Homo sapiens: one gene and its partners. The protein of the gene in region 1 interacts with the protein of each later gene in a biochemical or structural test. Each region holds a gene or a part of one and is shown in the gene's direction. Other genes may lie near its edges.

What was found.
Region 2: of the proteins of IRAK4 (region 1) and PELI2, one has a biochemical effect on the other in vitro, tested with the Homo sapiens proteins (one study listed by BioGRID and IntAct).
Region 3: of the proteins of IRAK4 (region 1) and H1-6, one has a biochemical effect on the other in vitro, tested with the Homo sapiens proteins (one large-scale study listed by BioGRID).
Region 4: of the proteins of IRAK4 (region 1) and EIF4EBP1, one has a biochemical effect on the other in vitro, tested with the Homo sapiens proteins (one large-scale study listed by BioGRID).

Annotation. Positions count from the first base shown.
Region 1 is NC_000012.12:43,772,401-43,775,974, forward strand, and holds part of IRAK4 (interleukin-1 receptor-associated kinase 4), read left to right. Parts: intron 1-511; coding exon 512-672; intron 673-1,564; coding exon 1,565-1,629; intron 1,630-3,574.
Region 2 is NC_000014.9:56,282,359-56,285,932, forward strand, and holds part of PELI2 (E3 ubiquitin-protein ligase pellino homolog 2), read left to right. Parts: intron 1-3,574. UniProt on the Homo sapiens protein: E3 ubiquitin ligase catalyzing the covalent attachment of ubiquitin moieties onto substrate proteins. Involved in the TLR and IL-1 signaling pathways via interaction with the complex containing IRAK kinases and TRAF6.
Region 3 is NC_000006.12:26,106,869-26,109,348, reverse strand, and holds H1-6 (histone H1t), read left to right. Parts: upstream 1-1,213; 5' UTR 1,214-1,255; coding exon 1,256-1,879; 3' UTR 1,880-1,937; downstream 1,938-2,480.
Region 4 is NC_000008.11:38,057,647-38,060,886, forward strand, and holds the end of EIF4EBP1 (eukaryotic translation initiation factor 4E-binding protein 1), read left to right. Parts: intron 1-2,257; coding exon 2,258-2,289; 3' UTR 2,290-2,719; downstream 2,720-3,240. UniProt on the Homo sapiens protein: Repressor of translation initiation that regulates EIF4E activity by preventing its assembly into the eIF4F complex: hypophosphorylated form competes with EIF4G1/EIF4G3 and strongly binds to EIF4E, leading to repress translation.

The DNA of each region.
Region 1 (3,574 bases):
CATTAAGACTACCAGTGCTTTAAAAGAAAGCTCTTGCTCTTTTGTTTGTGCAGCAATCACAGGCACACTGGCAATAGCTCTTTTGTGAGTTGTTTCCTCCTGATATATTAAGAACCATCTTCATTGTATTAATCAGTGATTAGAGGCAATAGGACATGCAAACAACCAGAGAAGCTATGAAAAAAAATAAGTAAATATTTACATAACTTGGAAAGGTCACTTTTTAAAATAAAATATGTGACTAGAGTTTTGGGTAGGTAGACTAGACCCACTCAAATGTGTGACTAGAATTTTGGGTGGGTGACTACAGTGTTCAGAGGGTAGGATCACCAAACAGAGTTCTCAAGAAAAACTTATAATTTGTATTTTAGAAATGGTTTTATCTTCTCTCATCTTGTCTAATTCAAAATCATAAATATTTGCATATATGTGAAATCTTCAAATGAGAAAATATTATAATTATTAAAACGAATTTTTAAAATTTAAGCATGTTTTTCTTATTTTGACATAGGTTTTCACAGTTTTTCATTTTATGAATTGAAGAATGTCACAAATAACTTTGATGAACGACCCATTTCTGTTGGTGGTAATAAAATGGGAGAGGGAGGATTTGGAGTTGTATATAAAGGCTACGTAAATAACACAACTGTGGCAGTGAAGAAGCTTGCAGCAGTAAGTTATATTTTCAGGAATAAAAAGAAAGAGTTGCTTCATAGTGTGCCCTATAATAGGTTTTAAAGTTAATCTTTAGGAAATACATTATTTCAGTATGTATTTTCTTTAAATAAACATCATTCTAAATAGTAGTTCTTAAAATTTTAAAATCTGTTGAACACTATGGACCCTACCCCTAGAAAAATGTGGTTATGTCCATGTACACAAGATCATACATACAATTTTGGGAGATTCACAAACTAAAGTTGAGAAGCCCTGCTCCACATAGTGCTTCATGTGTAATCAAGATTAAAATGGTAAGATACCAGGAAAACTATTTTTAAAAAACCTTGTTTGCATTACTTTTCCCATTTAAAAATAAAATTTAGGAAGTATACATTAAGAAAAAACATTAAAATTTTTTTTATCTGTGTCCTTTGTTGCCATTTCTACTGAGGTGTTTACCTTTTACTTACTTGTTATATTCTAAATCTTTTGTTAGAGCCTAAAAATATCAATAGAATGCATATGTATGTGATAAAGATAGTCACTCTTTGTCATATATGTTGCAGGGCTTTTGTAGGGTTTTTTTTTCCATTTTGCACCTAAATTGCTTATGTTTTCTGTTTCCTAGAATTTTTTTCAAATTTTTTTGTGTAGTGAAATTTCGTGTTATTTCATTTTGTTTCCACAACTCAGTGAAATTTATATATATTTTTCATTCCACTAACCAGCCATGGGCCTTGAGCAAATCACTAGTATTTCTAGATCTCAGTTATTCTGTAGAATTGGGAGAATAATACACTATTGTTTTAAAGAAAGGGAGATGAGCCAGCTGATCTCTTGATCCCTCTGAGCATTAGGAACCTTAGAATTGTGTAGTATTACATTGTATATTTTATTTTTTCAGATGGTTGACATTACTACTGAAGAACTGAAACAGCAGTTTGATCAAGAAATAAAAGTAATGGCAAAGTAAGTCTTAATCTGGCAGTGCGGTGTAGTGGAAAGAAAAAAGACAAGGAGTAAAGAACCTGGTTCACTCTAGAGTATGCCATGAACTAGTGATGTTTGCACATATATGAAATTAAAATAAAGTGTTTAGATTAGAGAAATTGAAAGTACTTTTGGCTCCATAATTCTATGATTACATATACTCATATGCCTGGAGATTAAATAGCAGTCATTTTTATTTATTTATTTTTTTTGAGACAGAGTCTCGCTCTTTTGCCCAAGCTGGAGTGCAGTGGCATGATCTCGGCTCACTGCAACCTCTGCCTCCCAGGTTCAAGCGATTCTCCTGCCTCAGCCTCCCGAGTAGCTGGACCTACAGGCGTGTGCCACCATGCCTGGCTAATTTTTTTCTGTATTTTTAGTAGAGACGGGGTTTCACCGTGTTAGCCAGGATAGTCTCGATCTCCTGACCTTGTGATCCACCTGCCTCAGCCTCCCAAAGAGCTGGGATTACAGGCGTGACCACGCCTGGCCGCAGTCATTATTTTAAGTCACAACAAAGTTACGTGAAATTTCACTATCATGTCCTTCATTATCATGTTTTCCACTTCCAGAATTCATGAGAGATCAATTGTAGAGATACTTAAAAACAACTATCTATAGAGTAATAGGCCCTTATATATAAAGTAGCATCTATAGAGCAACTAGAGTCATGTTATCTGTAAGGATGCTTAGAAGGCATTGATCCTGTGTGCTGGAAAATTGTTGGACATCATCAGGAAAAGTAGGAGGGACAAAGTAGGAAATGTATTCTAATTATTATAGTGATTAATAGTGATTGATATTTGAGTGTGTGCAACATGCCAGACATTGTGCTATGTACTTTATGTGCATTGTCTGTCTAACCCTTACAACTGTTACAACTGCCCATTTTGTTTGTTAACTGAGATTTAGAAACATTAAATAGCTTGTCCAAGATCACATAGCCAGTAAGTGTTAGAGATGGGATTGAAATCCAGATCTGTTTGATTGCGGAGCCTGAACTTTAGATCTGAATCGTAATGGGATTTACCAAATTATACCCATTAAACCCACTGCTGTAAATCACCAATCATAGTTACCTAACCTCAAGTAAGAAGAATAGACTAGAATTGATTTATGCACGGTAAAAATGATACATGCTGAAAAAAGATCAAACTTTTTTTTTCAGGATTTGTCTTCTTCACTCCTACCCCTACTCTCCAATTCTAAAAGTAACTTGTTCACAGTAGGTCATCTGGAAAATACAGGAAAACATTTTTAAAATATACAAGCCTATATGCATGCAGGACTTAATACGTAGGTGATGGGTTGATAGGTGCAGCAAACCACTATGGTACACGTTTACCTGTATGACAAACCTGCACATTCTGTACATGTATCCCGGAACTTAATAATACAAACCATCTCTCAAATATATCACTCAGAGATAACCACTGCTAATATTTTTATATACTTGCTTCATGATGTGTGTGTAGCATTTTCCCATGTCACTAAAAATAATTTGAAAACATTTTAAATTATTGTACAACAGTCTAGCATATGTGAAAATCATATTTTATTTAACCATAGCTAGGTTTGTTTCTAATTTTCAGTATTAAAAATAAAGCTTCTTTAAAGTTCTTTGCACATAAATCTTTAAATGCAGTTATACTTACTTTATCATCTAGGGTAAAGTCCTAGAAAAAGAATTACTAGGTAGGAATGCATGAACTTTTTAAAGACTTTCTAAATACACATTCAAATGGCTTTTGAGATAAGTTACTACCAGCAATGTATTACAATTTCAAACTTTACTGGTTCCTTACCTTCATTTAATATCATTACTTTTTTTTTTTTTTTTTTTTTTTTTGAGACGGAATCTCGCTCTGTTGCCCAGGCTGGAATGCAGTGGTGCGATCTTGGCTCACTGCAAGCTCCGCCTCCC
Region 2 (3,574 bases), on another chromosome or scaffold:
AAATAAAATGTTATTAAATAATATGAAATATTACATTATTAAATGTTAATTTAATATGGTAAAATGGTTTAAATCATGCTTATATGCATTAAAAAATCTCCAAAATGATTAACAAGACATGAATGTAGCAGTTGCCTTTGTGGGGAAAGGGACTGAGCAGGTGGTATACAGGGAGATATTTTACACTTTTCGATTTTTGGAACTATGCGTATGTGTTAGATATTTAAAAACTAAATAATCTTAGATAAAATATATAGTCATATTTATAAAAATAGTTATTAAAGTGCCAGTTTGAACTCAAAAATAAGATTTATCATGTTTGGGCAAAATACTAAATGTGGTTTTACTCTCCATGCCATTCCATTATATAATCTTATAAATGTCTTCTTATTCTGTTAAGGAAAATATCTTCCTACATAAGTATATGTATATTCTCCCCTGTTGATATTTTTATGGAACTTTATTATTATATCTTTTTAATACTCATTAAAATTATTTTCAATTTATAAGTTTTTTTACTACTTACAGTAGCAGTGAAGATTTTAAAGATTTTTTTTACAGAGAGAATTCTTAATACTAAAAAAGTGAATAAAGCCTATTTCACAATTGTCAGTGATACTTTTTTACCACTTAAATTCAAAAACTACTGTGATGGTACCTGTTATAGGTAAGTCAGGTACTCTCAAAGTGTGAGACATTAAATTCCTTTAAGAAGAATCTTGTTTCTTCGGAATTTTTCAGAGTTTCATAGATATTCTTTAGCGACGTACGTGTCACATAGTGTATTCCGCACTGTTGAACAGTCACATTCGACTCACATGCTCACTTTCTTCCCTCTCATCTCTGCAGAATGAATTAAAAGATTTAGTTGGACTTTTTCAGCTTCCCGTTACTAACTTCTGAGTACTTTATGCATACTTCCTATTTTGTCATACAGAATATCGAAAGACTCAAGATTTAATAAAGTTCATAATTTTTAACTGCAAATTCACAGCAATGAAAAATACAATGACTGCTAATACAGTTTGGTGCCACTGCTTTGAATCATGCCAAAGCACCAGCAGCTTTACCCACCATTGTTCTAGCACCATCAGCATAGAGACCAGCACAGTGGAAAAGGCAGTTAACGTCTTTGTATTATTATGAAGGTAATTTTGGCCTCATGTACCTAGACCCCATGGCAGGGTCTCAGGGACCCTCTGGGGTTCATCAACCACATGCTGAGAATACTGATTTGTACCAACCTCTTAATTTCATAGCTGAGAAATATGGGTGTTTGAAAGGAAAAGTAATGTAAACTAAGGCCAGAAGAGAAGAGGCATTAGGGGCAGAGCTAAGATTTAGGTCACTGAGCTCTTCATTCTCTGAATAGTACCAGCTCAGCCTCTTTAAATAAAGTATGGTAAGCCAAGCAAGAATTCACATGTTTCTTAAGGAAATATAACACATTACATTCACAGACTCACTGGACCTGTTAGAAGGATCTGTGGCAGATCATTTTAAGCAGAGAACTAAGCAACTCTCATAAGACCTTGAAAAGACAGGCTTGTTTCCATTTTTTCCTCCTTTTAACAAGTTTATATTTCCAAAGCCTACTACTGACAAAAATCACTGAGCAAAAAGCGCGACAGCACTCATAGTTCTGAAGTATGGACCTCAGTGTGGAGAGTTTGTTCGTTTTAGTCATTCCCATTAAAATGATTTCTAGGGTTAATTGAGTATTTAAAGGCAGAATATCAGAAAGAACCAAGAAAGGGCTTTATGCTGCATTTCCCACTGTTGGAGTCAGTTAGTAGACTCAGAACTCAGAAATATTATTGCCTGAGGAGAAAAATCAAAGCTAGATCTGAATTTAAGGTATAAGAAATTGTTAGTTAATATAATCAGAGTAAGATCTTGGTCATTATTTTCTGGAGTAGGCATAAACAAGGAAAGAAAGAAAAGTCTAACAAGAAAGTGAAACATAAAAGAGAAAATAGTTAATGGAAGGAATTAGAGGGGTGCATTGTCTTTACAGTGTCCCTAGAGTAACGTGTGGTGCCAAGTGCCTTCTGACCTTAGGGGCCAGGAGACTGACTGGGCCCTGCAGCCGGTGTTCAGGGGCCCTTTCTCTCAGATTTCACAGTTTCACAGGCTTCGAACGCGGTGCTACAAGGCCTAACAGTTTTGGGTTTTGGTTTTTTGTTTGGTTTGGTTTGGTTTGGTTTTCAATTTAGTTGATTTACTGTAGTTTTAGATGATAACATTTAATTAGTATCTATTAAGTTAAGAGGAAAATATTAAAGAATATCTACATTTTCTAGTGGGTATTTCTACAACCATTGTACATGAGCATGCATGTGCAGGTATGTTTGTATCTCATAGGATTCAGCCTCCCTGTCATAATCTTCCAATTACTAGTTTCATCTCTTGACCATCTGCTGTGTCAGAAACTCCTTTGATGACTGGGGAGAGATAACTAAGGCTCTCCTCTCAAGGAGGCTACATCTGGAGAAGGCAGACCACAAATAAACAAACCCTCTGGGCAGAGGAAACAGTGAGCGCAAAGGCTCCAAGTCAAGATCACAGTGGAGAAGGACAGCAGTGAACTCAGATGGACTTGGAAGGGCAGGTAGAGGCTGAGACAGGTAGGACCTTCAGGCCAGGTTGAGTCTGAGATTTATTCTAGGAATTTTGGGAAGCTGTTGGAGGATTTTAAGCAGGAGAGAGGTATAATCTGATTTATGTTTTTGTACGATTTCTCAAACTACTGTATGGAAAAGAATCTAGGTGGCAAGTATGAAAACAGGGAGACCAGTTTGGAGGCTAAGGTGATAGAACCCAAGTAAGACATAATGGTAACCAGAACCAAAATGGGAAAAGTAGAAGGATTGAGGATGTGTTTGGAGGTACAGCTGACAGTGTTTACACAGGGCTAATGTGGGCATGGAGGAAACTGAAGAATCAGGTTATTCTTGGGTTTTGACTTTTAGCTTGAGCAAATTGGATGTCAGTCAGTCATTGATATAGGGAAGCCCCAGGGTGAAGGGGGATCCAAGTTCTGTTTGGCATATATTACATTTGAGATATTTATCAAACATACAAGTGGAGATTGGGTGTGCCGGTCTGAAGCTCAGGGGAGAGATGAAGACTTTGAGCTGTTAGGTGGGATTTGGTGATACTATTTAGGGAGAGAACAGAAAGAAAAGGGAAGGGGGGACTATTTACCAACTGGCCTGAAAGTTTCATTATTTTAGTACCAGGTAGAGATGGACCGGCATATGCTGGCTCAGCATAAGCCCTGGATTTAGCAATATATTGATTTTTGGAATCTTAGCATGCGTGGTTTCAGTAGAGTTGTGGGGAAGGAAGCTCAATTGGAGTGGGTTGAGGAAGAAGGAAGCTAAAGATATGGGTGAGGAAGTGGAGGAGATAACAGGTTTTCCAAGAAGTCTTGCTGTTAAGTGAATCAGAGAAACAGGGCTGGAGCCTGGGGCTTGCTTGCAGGTGAAGGAAAGCGTTTTTAAAGGTGGGAGACTACGCCAGAGCAGGGCTACTCAAACTGCACTCCCTCTGCCCAGCAGTGAAATGTTTG
Region 3 (2,480 bases), on another chromosome or scaffold:
AGCTCAGGGGAGCACACTGGACATTATTCCAACAACCCTTTCCCCACAGCTATGCAGCCAAATCTGCCAGCTCAGTTAATTAATTAAGCAATTCAGAGATGAGGGTCTGCCCAGGCTGGAGTGCAGTAGCTGCGACCTCAAGCTCCTGGGCTCTAAGTGATCCTCTTCAGTCTACCCAGAAGCTGGGACTGCAGGCATGTGCCACCACACCCAGCTAATTTTTTTTTTTTTCAGTAGGGACCAGGCCAACCTAGTCTTGAACTCCTGGCCTCCAGCCTTCCGAAGTGCTGTAATTACAGGCATGAATCACTGCGCCCAGCCAACCCGCCCAGTCTTGTTAGACATGGGGTCTGTAGTTTCTAGTAGGTTCTTGAGTCTAGGGTTCCTACCTCATGTTTTATAGTTAATTTAGGGGAGGGACTGTGTCTGTTTATCTGGGGATGTAGGGGTGGGCAGGGGGATAGAGGGGACTTCAATTAATGAAACCAGAAGCAAAACTCAGTTGAGGACACCGGTCATGAGAGTGGCCTGATTATGGCCAATCTTACATAATGTGTGAGATCTTGATATTACCCCATCCTTGAGAGTCCTCTATAAAGCTACAGGGACTTGGGAGCACCTTTAATTACAGACAACCCATGTTCCTGTGGATTATGATTTATTAGATTGCACATGCCTAAATAAAGACATCCTCTGCAGTCTTTTGACAATTCTATAAGCATCTTCTGACTCCGCAATTAGACAGCTAAGAGATCTGTGTTACTTCCCTCACATATATAAATAATTTTAAATAAAAATCATGGCGTGAATAATTTCTTTCCTCTACCGATTTGAAGCTATCCATTTGGAAGACCACTCTGAAGAGATGAAATAAGTCTTCTGCCAAAGATTACTTATTAATTTACAAGGAAAAGGGGAAGTTTTGTTCCTCTCCGTGAATTTGATTGAAAATCGAGGGCTTTCTCGAATAGTTTTGGCATCCAGGGTCATTTTTCATTAAAAAGAGAAAAGTCATGTCAAATATGAATTTCCGCAGATTATTCAGCACTAGACCCTGGGAGATTCTGTAAAGAGGGGTTTTGTTATACTCAACTTTTCCGGGTAAAACAAACACAAATACTCCTCCTCCAAGGGGCGGGGGCGGTGCCTAGGTGATGCACCAATCACAGCGCGCCCTACCCTATATAAGGCCCCGAGGCCGCCCGGGTGTTTCATGCTTTTCGCTGGTTATTACATCTTGCGTTTCTCTGTTGTTATGTCTGAAACCGTGCCTGCAGCTTCTGCCAGTGCTGGTGTAGCCGCTATGGAGAAACTTCCAACCAAGAAGCGAGGGAGGAAGCCGGCTGGCTTGATAAGTGCAAGTCGCAAAGTGCCGAACCTCTCTGTGTCCAAGTTGATCACCGAGGCCCTTTCAGTGTCACAGGAACGAGTAGGTATGTCTTTGGTTGCGCTCAAGAAGGCATTGGCCGCTGCTGGCTACGACGTAGAGAAGAATAACAGCCGCATCAAACTGTCCCTCAAGAGCTTAGTGAACAAGGGAATCCTGGTGCAAACCAGGGGTACTGGTGCTTCCGGTTCCTTTAAGCTTAGTAAGAAGGTGATTCCTAAATCTACCAGAAGCAAGGCTAAAAAGTCAGTTTCTGCCAAGACCAAGAAGCTGGTTTTATCCAGGGACTCCAAGTCACCAAAGACTGCTAAAACCAATAAGAGAGCCAAGAAGCCGAGAGCGACAACTCCTAAAACTGTTAGGAGCGGGAGAAAGGCTAAAGGAGCCAAGGGTAAGCAACAGCAGAAGAGCCCAGTGAAGGCAAGGGCTTCGAAGTCAAAATTGACCCAACATCATGAAGTTAATGTTAGAAAGGCCACATCTAAGAAGTAAAGAGCTTTCCGGGAGGCCAATTTGGAAAGAACCCAAAGGCTCTTTTAAGAGCCACCCACATTATTTTAAGATGGCGTAACACTGGAAACAAGTTTCTGTGACAGTTATCTATAGGTTTAAGTTGTGATGCAGCTGAGTTGAAAAGGCTTGAGATTGGAGAATTAATTCAGGCCAGGCTTCAAGACCATCCTGGGCAACATAGCCAGACTACCATCTATACCAGGGGTCCTCATTTCCCCGGCCACCGACCGGTAACCGGTCCCTGTCCATGGCACGTTATGAATTGAGCCGCACAGCTGAGGGGTGAGCGAACATTAACCAACTGAGCTCCACCGCCTGTCAGGTTAGCTGCAGCATTAGATAGATTCTCATAAGCTCAAACTGTATTGTGAATGGCACATGCAAGGGATCTAGGTTTCAGGCTCCTTGTGACAATCTAATGCCTGATGATCTGAGGTTGGAGCAGTTTTAGTCCGGAAATCATTGCTCCCAGCCCCTGCACCCCCTGGTCCGTGGTATAATTGTCTTACACAAAACGGTCTCTTGTGTCAAAAAGGTTGGAGACTACTGGTTTTACAAAAAAGTAAATTAGTCAAGCATG
Region 4 (3,240 bases), on another chromosome or scaffold:
CAAAGACACAGTGTACTTGTCCTTTGGGAAATTATATGTCTACAAGATAAGAAATACATCCGGGATGCCTCCTGTTGGGCTGTTGGTCCCCTAGTGGATCTTCATGAAGGCAGGTAGAAACAATGCAGCCAGTTGTCTCTGCCGATTTGACATTTGGTAGCTGGGTCCTTCCTGCTGTCCCCACCTCCCGAGTAATTAGAGCAGCCACTGTGGTAGTGGTGTAAGTGAATGCACTCTTTGTGGCATCCTGACTGGCTTGGCAGAGTGTTGGAGTTCTCTGCTGCAAGATGATGCAGCATAAGCACTTCCGGGCAACTATAATCAGATTGGAACCCGCCGACCCTTCACCCGGAAGGCCGTACCCCAGGCCCAGACAGGAAGCAGCAGGGACCTCAGCTTGGCTGGCTCTGCTAACAGCAGCAGAATTAATCTCCCCAGGGCCTGCAGGACATGATTCATAATTACCTTGGGAACCTCACAGTACAAGACAGACAATAGTTGCCTGTGTCTTAGTCTGTTTTTTTATGGCTGTAACTGAATACCTGAGACTGGGTAATTTATGAAGAAAAATGGTTTATTTCTTACAGTTCTAGAGGCTGGGAAGGCCAAGGGCATGGTGCCCGCATCTGCTGGGCTTCTGGTGAGGGCCTCCTGCTGCATCATAACATGGCGGAAGGCATCACAGGGCAAGAGGGGCACATGAGAGAGAACCAAGCTGCCTTTTTATAACACTCTTGTGATAACTAGCCCACTCCTGTGGTAACCCATTAATCCAGGAATGGGCTAATCCATTCATGAGGACAGAGCCTTCATGACCCAATTACCTCTTAACGGCCCCAACTCTTAATACTGTTACATTGGGGATTAAGTTTCTGTATGAATTTCAAACCATAGCATTCCAGCCCTGGACCCCCCAAACTCATGTCCTTCTCATATACACATATATTAATTTGGTCCCCATATCCCCAAAGACTTAACACGTTGCAGTCCTAGCTCAAAAGTTCAAAGTCCAGAATTTCATCTGAATCAGACAAGACTCACAGCATGATTCATCTCAAGCTTAATTTCCTTCCAGCTGTGAGCCTGTGAAACTAAACAAGTTATCTACTTTCAAAAAATAGGGGCTGTCCCTGGCCCCTAAAAACATCAGCTGGTGGCCAGGCACAGTGGCTCATGCCTGAAATCCCAGCACTCTGGGAGGCTGAGGCAGGATGAATACTTGAGGCCAGAAGTTCAATACCAGCCTGGGCAACAATGCAAGACCCCATCTCTACATAAAATTTTAAAATTAGCCAGGCATGGTGGTGCATGCCTGTAATCCCAACTACTTGGGAGGCTGAGGCCAGAGGATCATTTGAGCCCAGGAGGTCAAGGCTGCAGTGAGCTATGATTGCGTAACTGCACGCCAGCCTGGCCAAGAGAGTGAGACCCTGTCTCTAAAGAAAAAAGCAAAAACAACAAGAGTCAGACGAAATGATATAGTCTGGATATTTGTCCCTGCCCAAATCTCATGTTAAATTGTAATCCCCAGTGTTGGAGGTAGGGCCTGGTGGGAGGTGTTTGGGTCGTGGGGACAGATCCCTCACAGCTTGGTGCTGTCCTCATGATAGTGAATGAGTTCTCTCGAGATCTGGTTGTTGTAAAGTGTGGGAGCGCCACTCCACCCTCTCTCTTGCTCCTGCTTCCTCCATGTGACATGCCTGCTCCCGCTTTGCTTTCCACCATGACGAAAAGCCCCCTGAGGCCTCCCCAGAAGCCAAGCTGAGGCCGGCGTCATGCTTGTACAGCCTGCAGAACCGCGAGCCAGTTAAACCTCTTTTCTTGGCTGGGCACGGTGGCTCGCACCTGTAATCCCAGCACTTTGGGAGGCTGAGGAGGGTGGATCATCTGAGATCAGGAGTTCGAGACCAGCCTGGCCAACATGGCAAAACCCCGGGTCTACTAAAAATACAAAAATTAGCTGGGTGTGGTGGTGGGTGCCTATAATCCCAGCTACTCTTTTGGGAGGCTTAGGTAGGAGAATCGCTTGAACCCAGGAGGCGGAGGTTGCAGTGAGCCGAAATTGGGCCACTGCACTCCAGCCTCGGAGACAGAGTGAGACTCCATCTCAAAAAAAAAAAACAAAAAAACAAAAAAAAACTTATTTTCTTTATAAATTACCCAACCTCAGGTATTTCTTTATAGCAATGAAAGAATGGCCTCATATACCAAGCATTCACCCATTGTTGACCTGGCCCTCTGTCCCCTCTCTCCCCAGGTGAAGAGTCACAGTTTGAGATGGACATTTAAAGCACCAGCCATCGTGTGGAGCACTACCAAGGGGCCCCTCAGGGCCTTCCTGGGAGGAGTCCCACCAGCCAGGCCTTATGAAAGTGATCATACTGGGCAGGCGTTGGCGTGGGGTCGGACACCCCAGCCCTTTCTCCCTCACTCAGGGCACCTGCCCCCTCCTCTTCGTGAACACCAGCAGATACCTCCTTGTGCCTCCACTGATGCAGGAGCTGCCACCCCAAGGGGAGTGACCCCTGCCAGCACACCCTGCAGCCAAGGGCCAGGAAGTGGACAAGAACGAACCCTTCCTTCCGAATGATCAGCAGTTCCAGCCCCTCGCTGCTGGGGGCGCAACCACCCCTTCCTTAGGTTGATGTGCTTGGGAAAGCTCCCTCCCCCTCCTTCCCCAAGAGAGGAAATAAAAGCCACCTTCGCCCTAGGGCCAAGAGTTGGGCCCCGTCTGAGCTTTTTTCAACTCTGTTTGGTAACTAACACCAGCTGCTATCTGTACAGTGCTGCTGCTTTTTTTTTTTTTTTTTTTTTGAGACGGAGTTTCACTCTTGTGGCCCAGGCTGGAGTGCAATGGCGCAATCTCAGCTGATTGCAACCTCCACCTCCTGGGTTCAAGCAATTCTCCTGCCTCAGCCTCCCGAGTAGCTGGGATTACAGGTGCCCGCCACCATGCCCAGCTAGTATTTTTTTGTATTTTTGTAGAGACAGGGTTTCACCATGTTGGCCAGGCTGGTCTCGAACTCTTGACCTCAGGTGATCCACCCGCCTTGGCCTCCCAAAGTGCTGGGATTACAGGTGTAAGCCACCGTGCCCAGCCTTGTACAGTGCTTCTAAAGCGTGGGCCTGTCCTTATTTGATTCTGACTCTGATCCTGTGGGTAAGTAGAACAACTGTTATCCTCACTTTACAGCTGAGAAGACTGGCACAAGAACAGGTAAAATCGTGCAGCTGCTGAAT